Linked DNA regions of Homo sapiens. The protein of the gene in region 3 purifies or fractionates together with the protein of the main gene of each other region. This does not show direct contact. Each region holds a gene or a part of one and is shown on either strand. Other genes may lie near its edges.

Region 1 (4,318 bases), on a different chromosome or scaffold from region 3:
TGGCCATTGTGACCCTCAAAACCCAACCCGACATCCCCCACCCTGTTTATCTCACCCCACACTGAGTGCTGTCTGGGAGCGCCACACCAGGCTACACTCCCGGCCTCAAATACCACCTTACTGTCCCCTCCTGCCCTCTCCTGGCCCACCTCAAGCCCAGCCCTGCCGGTCTGTCCCAACAGCCAGCTGAGGCCTGCATCTGGTCCTCACTAGTCTGGGCTCCTGGGGTAACGTGTAGCTGCCATGCTGAGGGCATTGCAAGGCTGGGGGCCTGAAGGGACAACACACCTGAGCCCATGTCACGCTCACATGGCCCTGCAGGTCTATGGGGCCACCAGCAGGCCTCCCGTGAAATGACTGCAGCTGGTGGAGATTTGGATCCGCAAGTCCAGGTTCTCTGTGCTTGCCATGGCCCCTGCCTTTCTGCACCCCGGCCCTGCCTGCCCCTAGGAGCCCAGCCCAGGGCTGGTCGGACTGGCCACCCAGGCTGTGGTCACGAGGACCCGCTGCACATCTACCCCTGAGGCACTGTGTACCTCATGCCAAAGCCACCCCCTGCTCCAAACAGCCCTGCCCAGGGCATGGTTCTGAGCCTGTGATACCAGACAGCGTGTGCAGAAGCCTTGGGAAGGAGAGGAGGCCTCTGGGTCTGGAAAGCCTGTGTGGAGAAGGTGGAACTCCACTGGGTTCCTGGAGTGCAAGTGGGATCTCGGCAGCTGGCGAAGCCAGGGGGGTCGGTAGACGTGGGAACAGGCAGGGGACAGTATGTCCAGGGATGAGCAAGGGGCCAATGGGGCAGGAGAGAGGGCACACAAAGGCCATGGTGAGGCGGAGGGCAGGGCCTTGCAAACCAGGGGGCTTCACAGCCAAGGAGTGGGCAGGAGAGCAGGACTCAGGAGGCTTGGTCCAGGGCGGTGGGTGGCCCGACTCCACTGGAGGCGCCACGCGGAGGAAGCCCAGGCAGAGGCAACACTTGGGCAGGAAGAAGGGGAAGGGGGTGGGTGGGAGAAGGCTCAGGCTGTCGGGGACCGGGAGAAGGGTTATGAGGCCAGCCCCGTGAGGGCTTCCAGGCTTTGGGCCCGAGGGTCTGGAAGAATGGCAGCTTCAGCCAGAAGAGCCGTCTGCGGAGAGCAGCTCCAGACAGTGCGGACCTGGCCTGTGGACCCTGCCTGGCCTCTGACCTCGGCCTCGAGAGGGGGCTCTTATCCGCTTCCACTGGGCACTGTCCTTCCAGGAAGGGCTGCAGTGGACTCCCGGGCCTCGGCCCCTGATCTCACTTGGTTCCAGCCTTCCTCAGGAAAGGCCGAGCGAGATAGCACGAGCACAGCAGGGCTGCCATGAGCACGGTTCCAAGGCCGCGACCCCCTGGCCTGCTCCCCACCCTCAGAGGCTGGGAGGGGCCGCGGCCTCTTCCAAAGTTGTCTCCAGCAGGAAGCAGGGCACTGAAGACAAGGATGGGCCTAGGTGACCCTGAGTTCGCATCCTATGACTGCTTTGGAACAGACCCTGCCTGGATGGGAAGAGGGGGGCCCATGCCCCCCACCGGGGAGTGAGGATGCCCTCTGAGAACTGACAGGAGCTCCGAGGATGGGCCCCGCGTCCACACCAGCACACCCGCCCCTTCGGGCCACACGCCAGCTCATGTCCACCAGCCACCGTCAAGGACATGTTTCCCGGCATGTGGGACTCCCAGGGACACAGGAAACGGTGGACGGAGATTGTGGTGTTTCACACACAGCAAGGGCTTCATAAAAATCTCTTGAATTGAGAAAGACACGGTCCCTGCCCTTGGCACCTGCAGACAGGAGGCCTGGGCCCTGGGCGACCCTCAGGGCACAGGCTGTGCACTGGGAGACTGGAACGTGGAGAAAACCCCAAGGTCAGGGGCCTGCATCTCACCTGGGAGGTGGGCCAGGACATTTTGGTCCACAGAAGGGGATGAAAAAAAGCAAAAAAAAAAAAAAAAAAAAAAAAAAAGGTGCTGGTCAAGCGGAAGGTAGCGACAGGCAGATGCAGATGACAGGCAAAGCAATCCCAGCCTGTAGGGGTCACCCACCAGGAGCCGGGCATTGTCCCAGGAATGGGGGCCACCGGGCTTCAGCAGTAAGCCCCACTGAGCCCCAGACTTGCTTCTTAGGAGCCTGCAAAAATGGTGCCAGCTTGGCGGGACGCGGTGGCTCACGCCTGTAATCCCAGCACTTTGGGAGGCCGAGGCGGGCGAATCATGAGGTCAGGAGTTTAAGACCAGCCTGACCAACATGGTGAAACCCCGTCTCTACTGAAAATACAAAAATTAGCCCAGCATGGTGGCGTGCGCCTGTAGTCCCAGCTACTCAGGAGACTGAGGCAGAAGAATCGCTTGAACCCTGGAGACAGAGGTTGCAGTGAGCCAAAATCGTGCCACTGCACTCCAGCCTGGGTGACAGAGTGAGACTCTGTCTCAAAAAAAAAAAAAAAAAAAAAGGTGCCAGTTTGGCAGAGGGAATGGCCACCTAGGAGCCAGGGAGTAGCCACTGCCACTTTTCAACTGGACACACAAAGTCTCCAAGGGGGAAGCATGCTTGGTTCCCTGCCTGCGACAGCCAGGGGAACCTGCCGGGCAGGCCCTTTCTCCTTCCCAGGGGCTCTGCTGTCAGCCCCGGCCTGGGAACAGCAGGAAGCAGGACCCGGGGCTCTGAGGCCATCTCTCCCCTCAGCAGCCACGCCTGGGCATGGCCACCACATTCTTCCCAGCCCACAGCACTCCACTTTCTTCCTTAAAAAGAAAAAAATGTTTTTTAAATAAAATAAACAACCCCCCTCCCCCCAAGCAAGAAACCAAACACGAGGTCAGGCCTGAGCAGAGTCCTTGAATGGAAGGCCCCCAAAGTGGCAATTTTAGGGTTTCCTGTCTATTCCCATGGGTCTGGCCGCCAAGGGAACTGGCAGGTTGGAAGAACTTGCCACTGGGGGCAGCTCCTGCCAGGGTGGCAAGCACGGGCGAGCACAGGGGTGGGACAGCCTCCTGGACTGGGTCACCTTGTCTCCAACACTGCTCCCTGATACTGGCAGAGTCTGGAGTGGCAGTGAGCCCAGAGCGTGTCCCTGTCCCCCACCCAGGTCAGCAACCCTGAGATCCGGGGGAACGTGGCTCCCAAGATCTACTCTGGAGCATCAGGAGAACCAAGCGGCCTCAACAGTCCCAGATGGAAGGACGCTAAGGTTCCCAACACCTTTGGGCAAGGGCCTCAGAGTTGCCTTTGCTCTGGCCGTTGGACGGGTGCCTGGGTTCCAAGTGGCCCTCACCACCTGGTCACAAACTTGAAATGTCCAGTTTCCCCAGCTGTAAAATGAGGATGTCAATGAGATGCTGAATCGCCACCGTCACACTGGCCATTTACAAAGCCTGGGTGGACACGGCAGAAGGAGGGCTTCTAATATGCCAGGCTGGCCATGCTGCCCGCCGTGCCCCGCCTGCTGGGCCATGGGAGAGAGCCGCCAGAGCCCCATTTCTCAGTGCCCCACGGCTCACCGACAGTCCATGCTAGAATCACACAGTAACTGGTCTTGCTCAAGCCTCTGCTCCACATTTGCCGTGTCCTCGGAGAGGATGGGGCCTTGGAGGATGGGGCCTGTGGCCAGGGCTGAGCCGAGCAGGGTGGGACTCCTCTGCTCACAGACCAGCTTCAGGCACTGCATTGCTCTACTGCGGGCCCAGTGGGTAGAGCCCGTGGCTTGCCCTGCCAAAGTATCAAGGGCTCCTTGGCACAGAGGTACTTGGTGCCCACCCAGCTTTGGGAAGGAGCAGTCAGTCCCACCTTGGCACCCCTGCAGTTACAGCGGCCTGCACCAGCTCCTACTGCTCCCGGAGCAGGCTCAGCCCAAGACAGTGAGCAGCTGCAGCACTGAGCACTGGGTGACAGGGAAGGAGTGGGTGCTGAGGGAGCACTTCCGGTCCCTTCTGGCACCTCATGGTTCAGAAGAAATGCAAAGTCCAGGCCATCCTCTGTGGCCTGGGCTCTCTTAGGTGTCTCCTGCTCGGGGTCAGAGGCTGTAGCTGTGTGGACAGGAGGGGGTGACAAGTCAGAGACAAACACACTCTTGCTGATGGCAAGGAAGCTGGCTGGGCCACGTGCTCCGAGGCCCACAATGAGTTCGTGGCAAAGAAAATGTCCAAAGGCTCCCTGAGAAACGGCCTCCACTAGAGCACCCTCCATCCCCCCCTTGACCTCTGTGGAAGAGCTGGGTGCAGGGCTCAGAGGACCCTGACTTGTGCCCAGCCTCTGGCCTGGCTGCCCTCCCGTCCCTGACCAGGAGCTGTAGGAGACGAGCAGCCCCC
Region 2 (4,318 bases), on a different chromosome or scaffold from region 3:
AAGGTCACTAACAGGGTATCACCCACCTCTGCCTTGATGACTGGGCCTGAAAAAATATCCAGAAGAAGAGAGAGAAGAGAATGAAAAGAGACAGAAAGAAGTAAAGCAGAAGAGTCATTCTGTGCAGATGTACATGCCCAGCTAAAACATCTCCCTGGGTTCAATGCATGGGGGATGGTTTTACTGTACCAAGAATTCCAAGATGGGCTTCTTCAGCAGAGAGTCTCTTTCTTTTAGTAAAAGTTGCATCAACAAATTCAGTATACCGAACCTTCCAGTATTTTCCTCCTATTCTGTTGTCCCCTTGTGTGAAGTAGAGATCAGAGTCACTGAAAAGACATAGGAATGTGATTGAGGACACTTCTCAACATATCCACCAAATACTTTAATTATAGAACTTCATTCTATCACTTTTAGTCCACTCGCCCACCCATGTCCCCAGAAAAGACAGCACAGGCCTTGACAGAGTTCCCAGGAATAGTTAACCAGCCCTAAAAGTCTTCAGAGGCTGGGTGATACTCAAGCTCATTTCTCTCAGCCATTGTACTTTCTTCCCAAGAGGTCCAGCACTGAACCAGTCACAAGTAAACTCCTTATTTACCAATAGTAGAGTTCCAGAATGGTGTTCTACAAAGTAACAAAGAGCTAACTGGTTTCTCTGCAGAATAAGCATCCCTCTCTCTCTTGCTGATATTAATATGAATATTCTCTGCATCTAGTAAGCTCTTTGATTTCTGGCATTATTAAGGAATGGAGTGTCTAGTTAATCAAATAGTGTAATTATTGGAGGGCTACCATATAAACCATATGCATGAAATGCAAAATTTCCAAGTCGTGAATATGATAATATAAATTCTGACTAATACTGTCTCTATACTATCTTATTTCCATCAATGGTGCCATCACTCTTGCAGCCACGTAGATTTTCTTTTTCTGCTTCATTCCCTTAACTCATTCATCCTTACTTTGTAAAATTTTTTGGCACTCTTCCTTTTCTATCCTCCTTGTGCATCTTTTCTTTTCCTTTCTTCCCACTACCACGACCCCAGTTCATGCCCTAATCACACTGGGTGGAGCCCATTATATGAACCTCTGAACTGCATCCTCTATCTGATACTGGCTCATTCACTTTTCTTCTCAGCATAGACACACAACTATTAGATTGGTGCAAAAGTAAGCCATAATGGTCATAATGGCCAAGACCGTGATTACAAATTACTTTCAATGGCCAAGACTGTGCTTATTTTTTCACTTAATACATTAATCTCCAAAATGGCAATTGTTATTGCTATTTACCTGCTCCAAAATCTTCAATTGCTTCCAATTGCCAATCAAATAATGTTCAAAAAGATTAAAGGACCTCTGCAATTGATATCCCGTTTACCCCAATTCTCTATTTCTCCATGCCAGTGCCCATTCTTCTATGCAAATTGTTACTGCAGTCTCATCTGTTCATTCCTCCCATGCCACAGGTGCTTTGCATCAACCCCTCCATCTAAAATTCCTCTCTTCCCTATTCAGTTAAATAAATTCTATCACTCCTTAAGATTTTGCTTAAGTCTCACTTCCTCTATAATGTGTTCCCTGGCCAGCTTAGCTCTCTCTGAGCATCCAGATAACTCACTACCAGGACAACTCACCTCACTTTTATTTGTAACTTGCAGTTACTTCTCTACTCTTGTGAACCCAGCTTCTTCCTCTGCATTTTATTGCTTTAGATATCCTTGCATCCCTCATGTCATCTTGCACTTTGTGCTTTCATATATCACATTAAACATTGATTGAATATAGTTTAATCTTTCCTATTTCAGAAGGCACTTCAGAATTCTAGAAGGCTCCTAAGACAATTTTGAATGCTAATTCTCATTATTCTGTTTATGGAGAAATACTAGTCAATAGAGAATGTTGATATCAGAGTCTTTCACATATGGTTCACACAAATTCTTTAGACAGGGTTCAAGTGCATCCGTTTGGTAGAATAATGAGTGAAAGTATGAATGAATGAATGAATGAATGAATAAAATGTACAATTAAAGAAACAAATGATGTTTTATTGATCACAAAGAGAATTTTTAAAACATTCCCTTAAATATAAAAAAGGATTCTTGATATCACACTGTACATTTTTTAGTATCTTCACAGACAACTTTGCATATGATTATATACTAACAAGTCACAGGAGTCCAGATCCACCTAATAAATTGCTAGATTAATTTTTTAAATAGTATATTCTATGGGAGCGCAGAGAGAACATAATTCATTTATATCAAGAGTCAAAGGTTTCACTTCAGAGGTGACATTAGAGTAAGGCTTTGAAAGAAAAATGGCATTTTACTGAATAGAAAGGAAAAGAATATTTGTAGGACATAAAGGGGACACAACTTAAATCAGGATATCCTTGAACCAAAAAGGGTAACCCTCTTAGGCCAGGTCATCTCCATCTCCTGTCATTCCCTCTTCAAGACTGTCTGCTCCATATGTGTAAAGGCCTTACTCTATTCTTTGTCAGCTTAGTATTTCTAATGGCACTTTGCACTATAGTTTGCACATAGTGCCTACTCAAGAAATGTTTGATCAATGAGTGAATGATCTAGTGTTTTGATTCAGCCGTCAAGTCACAAAACAAAAAATATTCTACCAGTTCTCAGCAGTGCTTTTGCAGTATTAAGAACACCTTAAGCAGCTACATTATGCCATCTATGCAGTATAAGCTCATCAGAGCAGTGGTTGGAATACAAATTAGATCACAGAGAAAGCCTAACACATGCTTCTCTGACGAGAGGCTTAGAAACACCAACAAAGGGTGCTTACCTGCCAGAGGCGTTTAGAGGAAGACCACTGAATTTGTTATAGCCTTGAGGAGCATAATCCCAAAGAATTTTTTCAGCTGCTATAAAGTAGCGCCTCTGTTGACCCTTCATCTTGGGGTAGAAAATATCACTTTTGCAGTTATCAACATTGTATTGCCCCAGCATACCAGCTGCAGAACAGAGGAAAACCACGAGCTGAGGCATAAATGATCACAAAAGGAATCATATAGGAAAAGACTGATAGATTTGGCTCTTGAACATTTAGGCTTCTGTACAGAAAATTGGACCATAAAGAAAGTTTTTTTAAAAAGGATAAATGGCAACAGGAGGGATATTTGTGACACATATGACAAAAGATTAATACGTAAATCACTTTTACAGATAAAGATGAAAACAAGTAAATCTCCAATAGAAAATGAGCAAGGAACAGAAATAGTTTATTCACAAAATAAATAATATTGGCCAATAAACAAATGAAAAAGAGGTTCAACCTTAACAGTACTCAAATAGTACTCAAACCTTAACAGTTTTCAAATGATACTATTGTTCATTGATCAGATTAGTAAAGATTAGAAAGACTAATAATTCTCAGTGTTGGTAGATGAATGGGGAAAGAGCCATACTCATACACTTCGTGTAGAAGAATAACAATTTCCAAAAGAGAATGTGGCAATGTATGTCCATAGCTTTTTTAAAAAAATCATACTCTTTGACCCAGAAATTCTAAATCTAGGAGTTTTTCTAAGAAAATGTTCAGACAAAAGTGCAAACATCTATAAATAATAGTCATCAGTGCTGTTTATAATAGCAAAAAAATTGGTGGGAAACATAAGCATTAAGCAATAGAGTATTGATTAAGCAAGATGTAATCTCCTTATAATGGACACTGGAAGTATTAACCATGATGAAGTAAGCTCTATATTCACCGACATGAAAATGTGTTTCTGATATATTTGTAAATGAGAAAAATTAGCTACAGTGCAGCATTAATAGACTGATTTCATTTTTTAAAATACATATATATTTACATATTAAGAAATAGAAAATAGGGAAGATATTCACCAAAATGTGAATATAAAATATTTCTATTATGGAACTACTGATTTTAAAACCAATTTATAGGGGCCAGATCCAGTGGCTCATGCCTATAATCCCAGCACTTTGAAAGGCTAAGGTGGGAGGATTGCTTGGGCCCAGGAGTTTGAGACCAGCCTGGGCAACATAGCAAGACCCTGTCTCTATTTGTTAAAAAACCTCCAATTATATGTATTTTCTAATTTTTTTACAATAACTTTTTTCTGAAGGCATGGACAATTTAGAAATACTGTATTTCAGGGAACGTATAAATACTAGCTTATGTCCACAACTATCGGGCTAATTTAGCGATCTTACTAGTCTCAAATGGCAGCTAATATCTTGATTTTAAATCTACAGTTTCTTCCCAGATTTAACAGCATAAGACTCTTTGAGAATAGAAACCTTCTCTTGTTAATCTTTGTTTTCCCAGA
Region 3 (3,500 bases):
GGTCAGGCTGGTCTCAAACTCCTGACTTCGTGATCTGCCCGCCTTGGCCTCCCAAAGTACTGGGATTACAGGCGTGAGCCACCGTGCCCGGCCTATTTATTTATTTTGAAATAGCGTCTCGCTGTGTTGCCCAGGCTGGAGTGCCGTGGCGCTGTCACAGCTTACTACTGTCTTGAACTCCTGGGCTCAAGAGATCTCCCTGCCTCAGCCTTCTCAGTAGCCGGGACTACAGGTGTGCACTACCATGCCTGGCTAATTTTTACTTTTGGTAGAGATGGGGGTCTCACTGTGTTGCCCAGGCTGAATCAAATATTTATATATAGTTGAGTCTATTTCTGAATTCTGCATTTCATTTAATTCCTTCACATTTCTATTTTTGACTCAGCGCTGCACTCTTACTGGCTCCTTCAATCTCTGGGAAGGAGGGAGATTAGTCCCCTCCCTTTCTCTCCTTTGTTTTTCTGGAGACAGGATTGTGCCCTGTTGCCCAGGCTGGAGTGCAGTGGTGATCATAGCTCATTGCTATGAGTCCTTGAACTCCTGGGCTCAAGTGGTCCTCCTGCCCCAGCCTCTTGAGTAACTGGGACTACAGGCATGAGCCACTGCACCTGGCTCCCCTTTTTCTGCTTTTAATGAATTTGCTTTTGCTGTGTTGACACTGAGGCAGGCCAGGCTTCCTAAAGTAGGAGCGTGCAGGCTCCTTACAAAAGCTGACGCCCAAGCAGGAGTGGTTATCATTCTTTCTTCTGTGCTTGAAAACCTTCAGCTCCTCTCTGTTTGATGATAGCAGCTACCAACAAAGTGCCTGTTGGGGGTCAGGTGCCTATTAAATGCTTTTCTTGTGGTACTTGATTTAATTCTCCCAAGGCAATATAGAGCCCAGGAGCGTGTGAGTCCAAAGCCCTGTTCTTTCTGTTGTTCTCTTGTATGGACCAGATTTGAATGCACCACCTGATTTCTTTTTTACTTTGAGACAGAGTTTTGCTCTTGTTGCCCAGGCTGGAGTGCAGTGGCGCGATCTCCGCTCACTGCAACCTCCACCTCCCGAGTTCAAGCAATTCTCCTTCCTCAGCCTCCTGAGTAGCTGGGGTTACAGGCATCTGCCACCACGTGCAGCTAATTTTTTGTATTTTTAGTAGAGATGAGGTTTCACCATGTTGGCCAGGCTGGTCTGGAACTCCTGACCTCAGGTGATCCACCTGCTTCGGCCTCCCAGTGTGCTGGGATTACAGGCGTGAGCCACTGCACCCGGCCATTTTAAAGAAAAATAAAAGATAGCAGTTGATGCCAGTGTTCTCAGTGTGCTGGGGCTGTGCTCTCCGGGCTGGTGTGCCACATACCCTCCCTTCCTCATTTGTCTTAGGCCAGAGAACTTTATTTTTTATTTATTTATTTTTGAGACAGGGTCTCTTTCTGTCATTCAGGCTGGAGTGCAGTGGTGTTATCAGGGTTCACTGCAGTCTTGACCTCCTGGGCGGGCTCAAGTGATCCTCCCACCTCAGCCTTTCAAGTAGCTAGGACCACAGACGTGCCACCACACCCAGCTAATTTAAAATTTTTTTTAAAGACAGAGTCTCCCATTGTTGCCGAGGCTTGCTTTTGAATTCCTAGGCCGAAGCGATCCTCCTGCCTCTACCTCCCAAAATGCTGGGATCACAGGCATGAGCCACCATGCCTGGTTAGGCCAGAGAACTTTATTTTTTATTTTTTTATTTTTTGAAATGGAGCCTCGCCCTGTCGCCCAGGCTGGAGTGCAGTGGCATGATCTTGGCCCACTGCAACCTCCACCTCCTGGGTTCAAGTGATTTTCCTGCCTCAGCCTCCATGAGTAGCTGGGATTGTAGGCATGCACCACCACACCTGGCTAATTTTTTTTTTTTTTTTTTTTTGAGACAGAGTCTTGCTCTGTTGCCCAGGCTGGAGTGCAGTGGCATGATCTCGGCTCACTGCAACCTCCACCTCCTGGGTTCAAGCAATTCTCCTGCCTCAGCTTCCCTAGTAGCTGAGATTACAGGCGCACACCACCACGCCTGGCTAATTTTTGTATTTTTAGTAGAGATGGGGTTTCACCATGTTGGCCAGGCTGCTCACAAACTGCTGACCTCTCGACCTGCCCGCCTCAGCCTCTCAAAGTGTTGGGATTACAGGTGTGAGCCACTGCGCCCGGCCATGCCAGAGAACTTTAGACATGCCCTTAGATGTGTGCGTGTGATTAATGGATTTTGTTTGTTTGTTTGTTTTTTTAGAGATAGTGTCTTTCTCTGTTACCCAGGCCAGAGTGCGGTGGTGTAATCATGGCTCACCACAGCCTTAAACCTCCCAGGCTCAAGTGATCCTCCCACCTCAGTCTTCAGAGTACCTGGGACTGCAGGCATGTGCCACCACCCCCAGTTGATTTTTTTTAGTCTTCTGTAGAGACAGGGTCTTGTTACGTTGCCCACGCCGCACTGACGGTTTTGACTCTACTCACTCAAACCTCGGAGGTTGTGGTCTTTACTCTTCCTTTATTGATTATCTTCACTGAGCTGGCCTTCTGACCTGGGTTTGTGTAATCCTAAACCAAGCCTTTCTAACCTACGTGTGGTCTCCTTTGGGGTCCCGTAGATCCCAGCTCTGCTGTTAAACAGCAGTGTGATCTTAGACCCGTTTCTTAGTCTTGCCGAGCCTTGGTTTCTTCCGTGGTAAAGGGGATACTACACCCAGCCTCGTAGATGTGAGTAAGCGTGACTGAAACATTTGTGGAGAGGCCTGGCTGCTGCAGATGGCATACATAATTTATTTTGTTGTTGTTTTCCGTCTTAATGAAGATATCTTAGGATTTTAATGCTGTCTCAGAACAAGTAGATCCTTGACTTATGTATGGGTTATGGATTCACATACTTTTGACAGATTATCATTTCACCACTCCCCCAAAAGAAAAAACCCAACCGCCGCCCCCCAAGCCCAGTCCTCACGCTCCTGGTGCTGCCCTGGGGATGGAGATGTGACTGGTAGGGAGCGTGATGATTATTTTTACTTCGGGTGCATCCTTTGTTTGGGTTATCTTCCTGCTATGTTATATCATGACAGTGTATGTTAAAACTCTAGCTTCTGGGCCAGGCGTGGTGGCTCATGCCCAAAATCCCAGCATTTTGGGAGGCCGAGGTGGGTGGATTGCTTGAGGTCAGGAGTTTGAGACCAGCCTGGCCAACATAGGGAAACGCTGTCTCTACTAAAAATACAAAAATTAGCTGGGCGTGGAAGCGCATGCCTGTAATCCCAGCTACCTGGGAGGCTGAGGCACAAGAATCGCTTGAACCCAGGAGGCAGAGGTTTGCAGTAAGCCCAGATGGCGCCACTGCCCTCCAGCCTGGGCGACAGAGCGAGAGTCTGTGTCAAAAAACAAAAACCACTTCTAGCTTCTGGACTTGAATCAAAACTTGGGTATGTGGAACCTTTTCAAGGCTTTCTCCCTTAAGTGAGATCAGACCATTTCAGCTGTGTGTCAGAGGTGTGGCATC
Region 4 (4,318 bases), on a different chromosome or scaffold from region 3:
CAGGGACGGGGTGGAAGAGGACTGTAAAGAGGAGGCAGGGGTTGGCCGGGCGCAGTGGCGCACACCTGTAATCCCAGCACTTTGGGAGGCCGAGGCAGGCAGATCACCTGAGGTTGGGAGTTCGAGACCAGCCTGACCAACATGGAGAAACCCCGTCTCTACTAAAAAATACAAAATTAGCCAGGCGTGGTGGTGCATACCTGTAATCCCAGCTACTTGAGAGGCTGAAGCAGAAGAATTGCTTGAACCCAGGAGGCGGAGGTTGCAGTGAGCCAAGATTGTGCCATTACACTCCAGCCTGGGCAACAAGAGTGAAACTCCATGTCAAAAAAAAAAAGAAAAGAAAAGAAAAAAAGAAAAAGAAGAGGTGGGGGTACTTAACGCCTTCATCACAAATCTGGAAATGCCCAGACCTTCAGCTGCACCCACTATGTGCCAGACATGATCAAAGATGTTGGGGCAGAGAAGGGGGCAGAGAAGACGAATACTGATCTTAGCCAGTGCCTGTAAAGAGGTCACCATCTAAAATAAAGGTGACAGCCGGGGAAGGTCACATGCCTTGGCCACCAATGCGTTAGAACTCCCATTGATTCTTTCATGGAACCTATCTAAGATGAAAGGTTGTAAATAATACTATGATCAGTAATAATATTACTTCATTCCTCTTATCATTTCAGTGTAATAAGAAGTCAAATGATAAATACTACATTGCAAATGGAATTGACATCACTTTAAAGCCCTAAAACGGTTCCTTAATGGGAAAAGCTCGAGCGCAACTGCTTTTGGGCACTAGGCAGACAATTGACTGAGAAGCCATGAGCCCAGAGAGCCTCAGGACAAAGCCATGTTTGGTCGACACAGGCACCTATGGCACAAGGAGCCGGGGAGTACAAAATGGTCCCTGGCAAAGCTAGGCCAAGATCCTCAGGAAATCTTGAAATGAGATGAAATCCCCAAACTCATTTCCAACCTGCTGCTCTTTTAGGGCATATTAATCAGCACATCTTTGTTCTAATCTTTCAATAGGCTGCACAGTCACGAAGTCCAAGTTCAGGGCCCAGATGTTTATGTGAGGTTCCAACGAAAGTGGCTCCAAGACTACTCAAGACAAGGAGCTTTATTCACAAGGCAGACTCTGAGGGATCCAAATATTAACTCACCATTCCATTTCCAAGTAGAAAGTAAGTTTAGACCTGCTTTATTCTGTTAATAAGAAATAAAGTGACAAGATCAGAGGGAAACTCCAGACACAGGACTTGTCTCTGGCAGGATGGAGAGGGAGGAATACAGCCTGGAGCTGTAAAGTCCTGAGTTCCAGGGCCACATCTGCATATCCCTAAGAAACAGGGATCATCAAATCTAATTACGATTGTCAAAAAGACTCAATGAAATAATGCAAACACTGAGCATAAGCCTAAAACTCTCAGTGAGTGTTCAAGAAACAGAAATATCACTGTTAGTTAATGCCTTTGACACCACAAGTTCTAACCCCAAGTTAACCAGCCACTGATGCTCTAGAAAATGCCTTAACCCTCATCAGCCTTCTCAAACGTGGGCACTTGCAGTGATCAGAAGAACAAGTCAGTGACAGATGTGTAGGGGCAGCCTGGTGGCCGCACTCAACTAAATGATGACCGTGGGAGAATGCCGGATGGGAAACAGCAGGCCCCACACATTCCCAGGTTTGAAAACACACTCTGCTCCTCTCTCCGGCTATTTCCAGCCATAATTACATGGAGAGAAAATACATCTTCAAAATTATACAAACTTTCCATATATGTCTATCAAAAAAGTTTGTTAAAAACATAACCTACTTTCTCATATCCCGGAGTAGGGGTATGAGGCATGCACCAAGGATTTTCCTTTATAAAGCATCTGTCTAAAGTAATTGGATCCATTTTCAGTTTTAATCATTCAAAAGTAAGAATGAAAACAAAGCAAAACAAAACAAAAACTTCAATAAGACCTGGTCCCTCAAAACTTCATGAAGTAGTAGAGGAGATAGGTCCATAAAGAATCACAGTGTTGGAGGCCGGGCGCGGTGGCTCACGCCTGTAATCCTAGCACTTTGGGAGGATGAGGTGGGCAGATCACAAGGTCAGGAGATCAGGATCATCCTGGCCAACACAGTGAAACCCCGTCTCTACTAAAAATACAAAAAATTAGCCAGGCGTGGTGGCAGGCACCTGTAGTCCCAGCTACTTGGGAGGCTGAGGCAGGAGAATGGCGTGAACTTGGGAGACGGAACTTGCAGTGAGCCGGGATTGCGCCACTGCACTCTAGCCTGGGCACAGAGCAAGACTCCATCTAAAAAAAAAAAAAAAAAAAAAAAAAGAATCACAGTGTTGAGGCCAGGCAACGTGGCTCATGCCGATAATCTCAGCACTTTGGGAGGCTAAGGCAGGCAGATTACCTGAGGTCAGGAGTTCGAGACCAGCCTGGCCAACATAGTGAAACCCCATCTCAACTAAAAATATAAAAATTAGCCGGGCGTGATGGTGGGTGCCTATAGTCCCAGCTACTCAGGAGGCTGAGGCAGGAGAATCACTTGAACCTGGGAGGTGGAAGTTAGCAGTGAACCGAGATCGCGCCACTGCACTTCAGCACAACAAGAGCGAGGCTCCATCTCAAAAAAAAAAAAAAAAAAATCACAGTGTTGGGAAGAAGATGGATGGAGAGATGGCTGAAACAGGGATGCTGTGCCCTATGCCTTGGACAGATACCTGGAAGGTTCCTAGACTACCAGGTATACCCACCACATGCTAGAGGAAGGACACTTTGTAAACAGTCAGTGCCCTTGTTGAGTGCACCATCCAAAAGAGATGGCCAAGCAAAGTCCGCGCTTGACCCCTGATCACCTCAGTTCCAGCCTTTGATTCATTCTTGGATAACCTGAAAAACCCACTCCTTTGGCTTCAAGAAATACTGCCTATTTTACCATCTTTGGGTTTAGTGAGCAAGCGAGTTCATGTGTACTTTAAAGATGATTTGAACTCTGACTACAGCTTTTCTCCACATTCATCTTTCCATACCAGAGTTCTCAGTTTCTTTTTTTTTTCTTCTCTTTTTTTGAGACAGAATTTCACCCTTGTGGCCCAGGCTGGAGCGCAGTGGCGTAATCTCGGCTTACTGCAACCTCTGCCTCCCAGGTTCAAACAATTCTCCCGCCTCAGCCTCCTCAGGAGCTGTGATTACAGGTGCCCGACGCCACACCCGGCTACTTTTTGTATTTTTAGTAGAGACAGGGTTTCGTCATGTTGGCCAAGCTGGTCTCAAACTCCTGACCTCAGGTGATCCGCCTCAGCCTCCCAAAGTGCTGGGATTACAGGCATGAGCCACTGCACCCAGCCAAGTTCTGAGTTTCTTTAAGTCTGTTCTCCATAAAATCTAGTCCCTCCAATGACAACTCATGCAGCCTGAAATTAAAAGCCAATTAAACAAGACCATACACAGCTAAAACGTCCCCCACCCCCCATCACTCCTTTCCTAAACTCCTCTCCTGCCTGTCCGAAATAGACTAATGCCTTCCGCACTACACTACAAAACACTAATGATGTGTTGTCAGATTAGATGGACACGGTGGTGCACACCTGTAATCCCAGCTACTTGGGAAGCTGAGGCAGGTGAATCGCTTGAACCCGGGGGGCAGAGGTTGCAGTGAGCCACGATCACGCCACTGCACTCCAGCATGAGTGACAGAGCAAGACTGTCTCAAAAAAAAAAAATACTTTGGGATACTTAAATGAGACCTTGGGAGAGAGGCAAAGGCAGTGTATTTGGGGTCTAACATCTCAATCCAGAGCTTCCGTGAACCTTTTTCATGTTTTCTGTTCACTGATTCATTCAGAACGTAGCTTCTCACTCCAGAAGGACTTATGTTTTTCTGCCAGGAGTTTGTGGTCACTCTTATACCAGGACAACTTTAAACTAAACCCTCTTTGGATTGGTTTTGTTTCCTTCTGTAATGCTTAATACTAAGCGTCAACTTGATGGGACTGAAGGATGCAAAGTATTGATCCTGGGTGTGTCTGGGAGGGTGCTGCCAAAGGAGATTAACATTTGACTCGGTGGGCTGGGAGAGGCAGACCCACACTTCATCTGCTGCCAGCGCAGCTAAGAATATAAGCAGGCAGAAAATATGAAAAGACGAGGCTGGCCTAGCCTCCCAGCCTACATCTTTCTCCCATGCTAGATGCTTCCCCAACTAGAACATTGGACTCCAAGTTCTTCATTTTTGAGACTCGGACTGGCTCTCCTTGCTCCTCAGCTTGCAGACGGCCTATTGTGGAACCTTGTAATCATGTGAGTTAATACTTAA

The links.
Region 1: the proteins of TBC1D14 (region 3) and GRK2 purify together in Homo sapiens (affinity purification with mass spectrometry; 2 studies listed by BioGRID and IntAct, with this or other methods). This does not show direct contact.
Region 2: the proteins of TBC1D14 (region 3) and HEPHL1 purify together in Homo sapiens (affinity purification with mass spectrometry; 2 studies listed by BioGRID and IntAct, with this or other methods). This does not show direct contact.
Region 4: the proteins of TBC1D14 (region 3) and TRAPPC9 purify together in Homo sapiens (affinity purification with mass spectrometry; 2 studies listed by BioGRID and IntAct, with this or other methods). This does not show direct contact.

Annotation. Positions count from the first base shown.
Region 1 is NC_000011.10:67,272,155-67,276,472, reverse strand, and holds part of GRK2 (beta-adrenergic receptor kinase 1), read right to left. Parts: intron 1-4,318. UniProt on the Homo sapiens protein: Specifically phosphorylates the agonist-occupied form of the beta-adrenergic and closely related receptors, probably inducing a desensitization of them. Key regulator of LPAR1 signaling.
Region 2 is NC_000011.10:94,069,036-94,073,353, reverse strand, and holds part of HEPHL1 (ferroxidase HEPHL1 precursor), read right to left. Parts: intron 2,981-4,318; coding exon 2,812-2,980; intron 330-2,811; coding exon 190-329; intron 47-189; coding exon 1-46. UniProt on the Homo sapiens protein: Is a copper-binding glycoprotein with ferroxidase activity. It oxidizes Fe(2+) to Fe(3+) without releasing radical oxygen species. May be involved in the regulation of intracellular iron content.
Region 3 is NC_000004.12:6,919,826-6,923,325, forward strand, and holds part of TBC1D14 (TBC1 domain family member 14), read left to right. Parts: intron 1-3,500. UniProt on the Homo sapiens protein: Plays a role in the regulation of starvation-induced autophagosome formation.
Region 4 is NC_000008.11:140,374,245-140,378,562, forward strand, and holds part of TRAPPC9 (trafficking protein particle complex subunit 9), read right to left. Parts: intron 1-4,318. UniProt on the Homo sapiens protein: Functions as an activator of NF-kappa-B through increased phosphorylation of the IKK complex. May function in neuronal cells differentiation. May play a role in vesicular transport from endoplasmic reticulum to Golgi.